2 separate regions of the Homo sapiens genome follow, and region 1 is linked to region 2. The links come from fine-mapping of genetic effects on gene expression. A gene starts in region 2. The other region holds a variant in brackets. All regions are shown on one strand. Distances are from middle to middle.

Region 1 (5,372 bases), 94 kb before region 2:
TGTTAAATTAGCATTTCCTGGAACAGTGGCTTTTAGGATTTATACTGTATACTGTGCCAGTGAAGGTAAACATCTAAGAGTCAGTGGAAATGCTTACCTCCGAAGACAGAATACAAGCAAACTCTCCATTCACCTATAGATCGTCCTCAAAACTTAGGTACCAGCAAGGATAATCTAAACATCCAATCACATTGAGCACACCAGGAGGAGAGGAGTCACATCACGTCTTCCTTCCTCCCCCTTAGATACCCAGCCTAGCTCACTGCCTGCTGCATAACAGACACTCAATAAATGTTTGTGGAACAAATACTGAATCCATAATGCTAAAAAGAAAAACTGCAGATCTCTCACATCAATATGAATTCTACCTGAGCCTTGGAATGAAACACTTTTATGTATTTATAAAAATACGTAACCATATTTCCTGAAGACTTAGAACTAATATATTCTGTGCTGGTGGCTCCCAATCCTTTTCAAGATCAGAAAATTTTAATAGTCGCTTTAATTTATTCACCTACAGAGAATGGTAAGTACACGCAGTGGCCCAGTGTTGGTGGTTTGGGCCCACAGTTGAGTCTTTAAATCAGTGCTCCTCATCTGTATGAGAATCTATTTCAGAATCTCCTGGGAGCGCTCAAAGGAAGCACCTAGCTCCACCGAATAAGAAAACTGGGGTGCGGTGGCAGGGAACAGAAAGCAGGCATGCATATTTTTTAAAAGCTCCCTTAGAATTTTAATGTACCCCTGAATGTGATTTCCTGCCAAAAGTGACGCTATATGGCACTGCCACTCAGTCTTCGCAACCCAGTGAGATAGTGTTACTGTTGAGAAAACCAGGGCTCAACGAGGAGCCTAGGAAAAGCTGATGTAGAATTCATACTCCTACGTGAGAGTTGCCATTTTCTTTTTGCTTTTCTTTTTTTTTTTTTTTTTTTGAGACACGGTCTTGCTTTGTCGCCCGGGCTGGAGAGCGGTGGTACGATCATGGCTCACTATAGCCTCTGCCTCCCAGACTCAAACAATCCTCCCACCTCAGCCTGCTGAGGAACTTGGGACTACAGGTATAAGTGCCACTGTGCCCAGCTAATTTTTGTATTTTTTTGTAGAGACAGGGTTTCACCATGTTGCCCAGGCTGGTCTCAAATTCCTGGGCTCAAAGCAATCCTCCTGCCTCAACCTCCCAAAGTCCTGGGATTACAGGCATGAGCCACCACACCTGCTCTTCATTTTTACTGTTTTGAATTCAACATTTGCTCCAGTATGAATCAAATCTTGACCAATATCACCCTACCCAATATCCTACAGGCAGATGCCTCACCTCCCAGAGTAACTTAGAAAACCAGTGCCATGAGAGACCCGCTCAATTTAAAAAAAAAAAAACAAAACATCAAAGTACTGCTTTAAAAGGATAGCCCTGAACTTACCTGGCTAAAAGAGCTTTACAACAATAAATGCTCATTAGAATATGTTTTGATGATGACTTTAAATAAAACACAAAATAAAAGGTTAACTACTGTAATACTATTTGGCCTTGGGGAAGTTACTTACCCTGCCTAGGATTCAGTTTCCTTGACTGCAAAGATTCAAATCATATTAACCGTCTGACAGGGTTGTCGTAAAACTGAATGAAAAAATGCCCAAGAGGCTGACACAGATTAAGGGTCCCATGAATGATGGTTGCTATTGTTCTTACTGCTATGATTTTGCAACATTTTTGACTTATCCCTCATTAAATATACTTTGTTCAATGGCAATCCCAAGAGATGGGATTAAAACTAAGGAGAAACTAAGTTTTTCTACCTCAAACTTCAGCTCTTCAAAGGCATATGTGGGACCTCGTATCTATGCTCTAAGGGAGATAAGAAAACAGCCAGAAGAATTGGCTCCAAGAAAGCAACAGCCCACTCGTTTAGATATTTGCTCTGTCCTGTAAATGTGAATAATGAAACTGATCATCTTTTAGTTGCTCTCCAGAGGGAGGCCTGGGCACCTGAGTGGGACATGCAGACCTGATGAGGATTCCAGTCGCTGTCAAAGATGACCACTGTATCAGCTGCCTGAAGATTTAAGCCCAGGCCACCAGCTCTTGTGCTCAGCAAGAAAATGAAATACTGGGATCCAGGTTCATTGAATTTCTTCAGCAAAGCAGCACGATCTTCAGACTTGGTGGTGCCTGAGGGGATCAGAAAAATTAATTTGCCAATTAACTCTTGTCTGAAAATGGCACAGAATGAGACAAAAAGGCTTGCTTCCTTCAAGAAATATACCCAGACTCCTCCTAACACTGGTGAGGTAATTTCCAGGGCTTTGTACTTCTGGATAAAAAACTTTGAACATTTTGCAATTACAAAAAAAAAGAAAGAAACAGCTTAAACATTTCTAATGAGGCATCTTCGCAACTTCACAAATTTTACAAAATCCTTACTCTCACCTAAAACAATGAAAACATTTTTTGGATTTATTTCTGTGATTTATAACAACAAATAATTTTAAGAACACACACACTTCCTCTCTCGCCCTGTCTCTTTCACTCTCACACACACACACGTGCACTTAAAACTGTAATAATGGCTTAAATAAACTTTGCCAATAGGCATTAAAGCAAGGACTTTTTTTATGCCAAGAAAATAGAAAAAAAAGGAAAGTTCTTTTCTACTACTTTACCATTTGGATTACTACTAAGTATGGTCTGGTTGGTAAAAACATAAATTATGAATGTAATTTTTTTTTTGCAAATGGAATAATTTTATCCTTGTTAGCAAGACTTAAAGCCACAATAATCCCCACCCCCCCCACAAGAAATCTCTTAGTCTGTTTCTCACGTTATCATCCTGCTCTGTTGAGTTCAAAGCATGCTAAATCAAAACCAACTAAACAGAGCAGCATGTTAAATACTTGGGGGTG[G/C]TTTGCCCCATGGGGTCTGAAGAGGCTCCAAAATAGTGAATAAGCAGACAGTACCAAACCTCAGAGTCTGGTGCTCACTTTTGGGGCATTCTTGCATTCCAGATGAGCCACTCAATCACATATTATGTATGTGTAATGTATTTACCCAGCCATTTCATGAAATGCATTGTGGAAGGGGAGAAAAAAAAAACACCAGTATTCCATCTGAACATATTTCACCAGAAAAGCTTAGATGCTGAATTTTGAAAGAAGGCTTTAGGCTGTTGGGAAATATGTATGCATGTTACATGACAGTCTCTGACCAGCTGCTCTTCAAATATTATTCCTACATGCTGTTCATTTTTTAAGGATGAAAACATACCAGCAATTTATTTCAGAGGATTAAAACATTTAAGTGACTATAGCTAATGAAATCAAGTTACTATGAGGGCCAAGTTCTCAAACATGGGGACGATCTGTTTTTCACATTTAATAAAAATAACAAATGCCCTCCTGAAGAGGGAGAAAACAAATCACTTCCCTGCATACAGCAAACAGGGATTAGAAATGAGGGGTCTGGGGGCTCTCATTGAGTCACATGGAGTCACATTCTTTAGACCCAATTTACTTTCTACATTAGGTTTCGAGTTTAGTGAACTGGTGAGGTCCGACACAATCAACTGTCCGAGTTTAGATTTTGGAGGAGGAGCACTAAACATGCTTTGATGAGTGAGCTTTCAAATGTGGGGCTCTTTTTTCTTTTATTTTCAGAATTGGCTTTCTGAGATCATGGTGAACTATCTGTTCACGACGCTAATGGAAGATATTTCTGCTGTGAAACCTTCTCTATCATCTTTCCAGCTACAAGAATTTTTTTAAAAATTACATGTATTAATGGTTCACATATTTCTCCTCTGCCTTAAACTGAATGAAAAGCCACAGAAACCAAAAATTTCTTCTAAAATGGGGAAAGAAGAGATCATGGCATCTGTGTTTCTGAAAACTGGGTACAAAACTATACATCTATACTCTCAGGATAGAAGTTCAACAGTTTTGATTAACTGAAAATGAACCAGCTGATAATCACACGGATTAATGAAACCGAACAGTTAATCTCATCAGGTCTGCCTGCCCTGCATGCTTCTGGTTTCTTGCTTTTTGTTATTTTTGTTTTCTCTTTTTCCATGAAGCTGAAGGCTGCAGTAGCTGAAGGTCTTGCTGCTGAATGCTCAAACTTGACCTTCACTGGCTACTTTACAGATAACATGCATACGTCACCATGGTAATGGTTACTTCAGTTGTTTTTCAGGAACTTTGGCCAGCTCTGTCCAGTTCAAACCCGTTGACACCACTGGCCCTTAAACTGGGCCTGAGCGCAAGTGCCCAAGAGATGGCCTTTTGATGTTGGAGAGCCAAAAACTCCACCATCAGATCATGCTGACTCTGCCATTTTTTGTATGTATGTCCTAGGAAATGCCATGAACCCTGGCTATGCCTGTGTAGAACGAACCTGTGATTTCATTTTTCCCCACTGCCAATCACCTTTCCCTGTGCCTTACACCACCCCACTTCCTTACCCCATAAATATCCCTAAACCTTATCTTCAGGGAGGTAGAGTTGAGGGCTGTTCTTCCATCTTTATGCTTGGTGCCCTTGTGAATAAATCTTTTCTCTTTTGCAAAACCTGTGTCACAGTGATTGATTTACTGCACGTGGGCAGAACAGACGTGGATCTGGCCAGTAACATAAGATATAAATACAACCAATGCCTACTGAGATGAAATAACCTTACATGCAAAATAAAGCACTGAAAAACAAAAGGAATATCCAAATAAAATTATTTGGTCAAAGGAGTTTTCAGACCCTATAACAGATACCTCAAGCAAACAGGCCAACCATATATCTGGTGTGTATTTAAACTGTATAGGCCAGGCATGGTGGCTCACACCTGTAATCCCAGCACTTTGGGAGGCCAAGGTGGGCGGATCACCTGAGGTCAGGGGTTCGAGATCACCCTGGCCAACATGGTAAAACCCCATCTCTACTAAAAATATAAAAGTTAGCTGGGCATGGTGGCACACATCTGTAATCCCAGCTACTTGGGAGGGTGGGGCACAAGAATTGCTTGAACCCAGGAGGCGGAGGTTGCAGGGAGCCGAGATGCACTCCAGCCTGGGGGACAGAGCGAGACTCCGTCTCAATAAAATAAAATAAAATTAAATTAAATAAACTGTATAAATAGCTGGGAACTTGACAAATTATAAAAAACAAAAAAGATTAAGTCATTTTTCATACAAAGCTATGGCATTTCTTATCATAAGGTTTGCAATTTGCTAGAAAACCCTTTCTGTCAAAGATTTCCAAGTCAAGATCTTTGCTGATCATCAGCAATCTTTTTAACAAATATTTTTTTAATTTAACAAATTTTTTTTGTTAAATTTAACAAAATTTTTAATATTGTTCAGGGAGATTCAAACTACCATGTAACA
Region 2 (5,372 bases):
ATAACACCCGGTGCAGACATTGAATAAGGAATGGATTCTGCACAACACCCCCACTCCCTCGATTCCCAAGCCTTCCTCATTCCCTTAAAAAATCCAAACGCCTAGCAAGAGCTAGTGGACGACTTTGAATATTTATTTTATTGCTGGAGTAAAACCTGCGAGAGTTGGAGGTACGTTTAGGCCCGAAGTTTGAATGTGCAACAGCCCCGGGCGCAGCGACTCACACTCTCCGGACCCGGAGGAGAAAGAACTGACAAGCAACAGCGGCCAGCAAGGCCTTCTTCCCCCTCATGGTGCCTCCCGCTGGAAAGTTTTCCACGCAATCGATCGGAGGACAAGGAGCCCATTTCCCCCGCCTGCCTGACTTTGCAGGAAAGGCGAGCCGGGAGACCGGAGGGGGCTGGCAGGGAAAGAACTGGAAAGCTCCGCACACAGCCGGCGGCAGGGCTGCGCAGGCTCCTTACCTGGAGGACGCGGAACAAAAAGGGGCGCGGGGTTCGCGGAGCTTGGGGTGGCGGCGCGGCCGGCGGACGGGAACCGGTCTCCGAGCCGCGGCTCTAGGCCCGCGCCACAGCCCGCGGCCCGGCCCCCGCCGCTGCCGCTTCCTCCCTCGCGCGCGTCATGTCACGGCAATCAAACATGTCTGTGTGCTGTGTGCGCTTCGCTGCTGTGACTTCCTGATTCTCCGCCGCTCGCGCGCGCACACACACACACTCACAACCACACGCACACGCCACCCCCACCAGCCCTCGCCACCAAACCTCGCCTTGTCCTCCCCGGGCTCCAGGGGAGGGTGCGGGCAGGAGCAGCTGCCCGAGCCGCTGCTCCCGACGCACTGGCTCCTGCGCGCACAACACACACTCACACTCACACTCACGCGCAGACACACTCGCGCCGGCCGGGAGGGCGCGGAGGCTGGAGCCGCGGGAGCTCGCAGCCCCCTCCCACCCCTCCACCCTACTTAGCCGCCCTGCCAAACTTTTTTTTTCCTGCCTGATCCACGTCCAACTTCCCTCCACCCCACCCCCCAAGCAGCCCAGCCAGCCCCGCGCTCACCACCATCCGCAGCAAACGGCAACCCGGATAAAAATAATAATGCAATCCAGGCGGCAGAGGCGGAGGCGGAGGCGAGCGATCAGACACTGGCAGGAGGCGATTTCCCCGCGTGTACCGGAAACCGGCCCAAGTGCCCCGGCCAAGGCGCGGGTGTCCGCCGGAGCCCGCACTGCCGCGCCCCGCCCTCCGCCGTGTAACTGCACCCAGGCTGCGAGGCCTGGTGCGGGGCACCGGGAGCACTGTGCTCCGTGTGCGCCCTGCGGCCGGAGGGCGCCGAGGGGCTGGCGCGCCGGACCGGTTATTTAGGGAAGTGCATCGCGACACCTTTGCAGATGGCATGGCCGTGTTTTGCAACGCAAACGGGAGGAAGGGAAGACGGCCGGGTGGAGGGGGAGAGCAAAGGAAGGGGTAAACCAGGTTGGGATGGGAATAAAGCAAACTCCTGAGCAGGGAGCGAGAAGGAAGGAGTGCGTGTCATCGTTGGGAGGAGGCTCCTACCCGGTCTCCCCGCCTCCCGCCCTCGCCACCCCCCTATTCCCTCCCCACCGCAGCCCTTCCCCTTCCCGGGCGAACCACACCGCCGCTGCCCGGTGGTGCGCGGGTCCTGTTTGTGACAGTCAGGCAGACAGGATTATCCGGATCATGGCCTCCCGGGCCCGCAGCCGCCGCCGTGGCTCTCCTGGGTCCCGGCGCGCCCCTAGCACCCGGACGATCGCAGGCGCCCCACGCCCGCAGCTCCCGCGGCGCAAGCAAGGGGAAGACGCGAAGCAAAAGAACACGGACCCGGGGAGAGGGAGGGCAGGGTAACGGAGGCTGGCGGGCACCTCCGACCTCCTTGGGGGCCTCCTCCCTTCCCTCCAGCAGTGCGGCCCGGGCCGGACATCCCGAACTTTAACACCCGAGCCTGCGCTGCCGCCAGGTACCAGAGGCAGGGACGTCCGCAGCGCCCGGGGCGCAGCCCCCTGGCAGCCCCTTTGCCTAAAGGCCTGCCTACCAATCAGCCTCCCCATCCACGCCGGAGGAAACGCGGAAAGTGGAGGTGACACCTCCGATCAGGCACGCACCGGCCCCGCGGCAGTGGCCGCTACCTCCTTCGCGCGTCAGCTCAGGCTTCTCCCGCTGCGATCCGCTCACGTCTCCGCAGCCGGAGCCCTTTGAACAAGTCCCTGGGAAGCGGGTGGCAACAGCGTCCGTTGGCGCCCCGCCGCCAGCCTGGGCTCCCCGCCCTCCTTTCCCGTTCCCCTTCCAACTCTTCCGGGGAGGGTTGCCCGGGATGAACAGTAGCGTTTCCATCCTCCTCCCCTGTCCCCCAGGCCTTCCCCCTCCTGCGGCCACCCCCCTCCCCGCCGCCTCACTTTTAAGGGGATGGGGGGATTGCAACCTGGCCCAATGTGTGTGTTGCAACCTTGAGTTGGCAGCGCCTCTGACTGCCCACTCAGGATCAAGGCTGTGGCTTGTTGGGATTTTTTTCCTCCTTTGCCCCCTTGAAGTAGTAATTATTACTGTTATTATTAGAACAGCAAGGTTCGGTTGAAACTTTCTCGTTTCTTCCACCGCCGCCTGGGAGCTGTCGTTAGAGCATTCCACCTGAGGCCCGCGGGGAGGAGGCGGGCTTTTTTTTGTCGCGGCGGTTGGCCCGCCTGTTTGTTTTGGTCTCCTTGCATGCACAATAAATAATAATTAGGATAATAATGGATAATCCCGGGCGAAGGCGGCGTGGTGCCGGAGGGGTCTGAGCGGCGGCTGCAGCGGGGCGGCCGAAGGGAGGGGAAAGAGGAGAAAAGAGTTGTAAGTTATATTTACCTTGCTCGCGAGGAGTGTGCTGGCTGAATCTCTTCCCTCTCTGAGTCACCCAGAGTACAGAAACAGAGGGAGAGAGGACTAGATTATGAATATGACTTCATTGATGACAGCCGTCCCCTCCTCTTCCTAAACTCGGGCTCCGCCCAGCGTCCCACCCTCGCCTCCTCCGCGGGCGCCGGAAGACGCGCCGCAGTTGGCCCCGCGCGCCGCTCCTCCCTGCCCGTCCGGGCGCGGGTTGGCGGGACGCGCCTGTCACTCGCTCAGCTCAGCGACTCCGGGAGCGCGGGGGGAGGAGGGGGCGGTGTGCAAGAATGTGGATCTAGACAGCTCTACTGTATGCGTGGATCCGTGTGTGACTGCAAGGCGCCGGCTCTCGGGCCGCGTTTGTGCCTGGAGCAGAGAAACTGCGCGGGATGCAGAAAGCCCCAAGCCCTGCTGGAGCTGGGCGCCCGCTGTCCCTTCCCTGGCAGTCCTCTTCCTCGGGCGCCGCGGGGCTCCTCCAGGGAGACTGCGGAAGGGGAGGAGGCGAAGCGAAAACGGAGGGCAGCCGTAGTAATAGCGCGTAGTAGTTCGGGGGTATGTGGAGAAGGTGCTGGAATTTAACTGTGCCTCCGCCTGCCAGTGCGAGCCTGCAGAGAGAGAGGGAGGGGACGGGGGACGGGCTCCGAGTGGCACCAAAGCTGTTTGTGGCACAGTGTGGACTGTGGAAAAAACGGGCATTGTCGTGCCGGCTGAAACTTTTTCTCCCCCTTCCCTAAGGCTGTCATTATAAATCTGCCCCCTATTCCAGGTAAAAAAATAAAAAATAGAAAAGGGAGGCGGGCACAAAGAACGTTCCTGCCAAATCTGTCTCTTCCCTGAAGGACTGCAAGCTTCCAAATGCCAACGAGGGAGAAACAGCTGAGAGGCTGAACGCCTTATAAATAAGTAAACCCACCCTAACCTCTCTGTTTACTTCGTGGACTAGGTACAGCACTATAACCTTCCCTCACCTGCCATCTTCGCTAAAATATATACAAAAATATGGAAAAACAAACCCTGGGGGCGGGGCTGGCGGGTTAGGGGGCGGCTGAAGCATGGAATCTGGTTTTGATTTAAAAAGGGGAATAAATCTCTTATTTTCTACAGACCGTAGTCTCTTCCCTCTCACCCCGCATTTGAGACCAATTAAGGCTGCAAATTGTAATTTGCTGGCAAGTCGCGGTTTTGAGACCTCTTTGCTCCAATTTTCCTTGAAATACAGTACTTTGGCCGGACCAATAGGTCGGTGTTTGGTGAGACAATTTTATTTTTAGTTTTATGAAGTGTGAAAGAATGTTAGGAGACTTTAAATCAGGGGCCTATTATTTTAGACTCAGATTAATGTAGATGCTTGACTCTTAAAACTGTTCCTATGCAGTAGTGTTATGAAAAGTATGATTTATCCCTTATTTCGTAATGTAATGGCTTAAATTAGTCATTCAAAGTGCACTGTGACTATCTGGTTGAGGATTCTTCCCCCTAGAGTAAAATCCTATTTTAAGACCATTTTACTGTTGCAAAATTGACTCCATTTGAGCAACTGGGTCTGAAATGCAGTTCTAGGATGCTTAAAACTTCAGGCTGGATAAGTTGAAGACAAGAAGTAATGGAAAGAACGCCAAATACTGCCATGTAGTCATTAAGAAGCAAGAATTCTTTATATCACTGGTCCACTGCTGGCTGAAGCAGAGCCCACTAGGGCAGCATTTTCATGATGGCTGGGAGTGTTGGTGATCACCCACCCTATAGCTTTCTAAGGTCTTGCTACTTGCTTGTTAACTTTAGCTTCATCATTTTCTGTCTATCTTGAAGTGAACCTCAAGACAACGAAAGATAACACAGCTAAGAGAAATAGAATATAGTGTGCCCTGAAGGATCCATTGTAAGAACTTGTTTTTCTGCCTGAGGATATGCCGGTATAACTATTAACTGAGAAATATATAGGGAGAAATTTTAAACAAGACTAGTAGTATAGTAAAAGTGTAACATAAATACTAACTTCTAACTGCCTAATAAGTCGCAACTAATAATATAGCCAGATAACCTACCTGTCTCTAATAAAGAGATTTAACCTAATAGCAATGCTTATTACATTGAGAGTATTAGGTTTTAATTTTTTTGGGGTCTAATTTGTTTCTCTGGCATGCCGGCCTCACATGCCAATTTTCAGAAATTGATAACTTCACTTTTATTCCCTTGTGAATAAATGCCCTTTATCCCCTTAAGATTCTACTTCCACTTGCCATGCAAATCCTCAAAAAAACAAAAACAAAAACAAATCAATTAGTAAGTCCCTGGAGAAAGAAACTGTCCATTCCTTCTGGCATTTTGTCACAGGGAAAGTAAAGAAGAAAACATTCCCTTTGTTATATGTGTATATTCTTCAGCTCATATAAAATTTTGATGTTGTCCTTGGAGGCGTTGGTATCCACGCATTGTATACACACAGCTATGGGAATTAAAATACATCGTTGGGAACAGAGATTAAATAT

The links. PIP is the estimated chance that this variant, and not a neighbour inherited with it, causes the effect.
Region 1: its variant is the best candidate, but not a certain one, in a credible set for the expression of SMARCA2 in fibroblasts (GTEx, PIP 0.77).

The regions. Positions count from the first base shown.
Region 1 is chr9:2,107,055-2,112,426 of GRCh38, reverse strand. SMARCA2 (SWI/SNF related BAF chromatin remodeling complex subunit ATPase 2) reads right to left here. Exons shown (of 34, transcript NM_003070.5): 24 at 2,010-2,173. Among named protein-coding and RNA genes, the nearest start is that of SMARCA2, 94 kb to the right of the region's middle. The variant G/C (reference allele first, on the strand shown) is at 2,905.
Region 2 is chr9:2,012,892-2,018,263 of GRCh38, reverse strand. It overlaps SMARCA2 (SWI/SNF related BAF chromatin remodeling complex subunit ATPase 2), which reads right to left and starts at 2,917. Exons shown (of 34, transcript NM_003070.5): 1 at 2,860-2,917. RefSeq lists silencers at 808-997, 1,148-1,257, 1,558-1,727, 2,868-3,207 and enhancers at 1,915-2,471, 3,258-3,307, 3,368-3,417.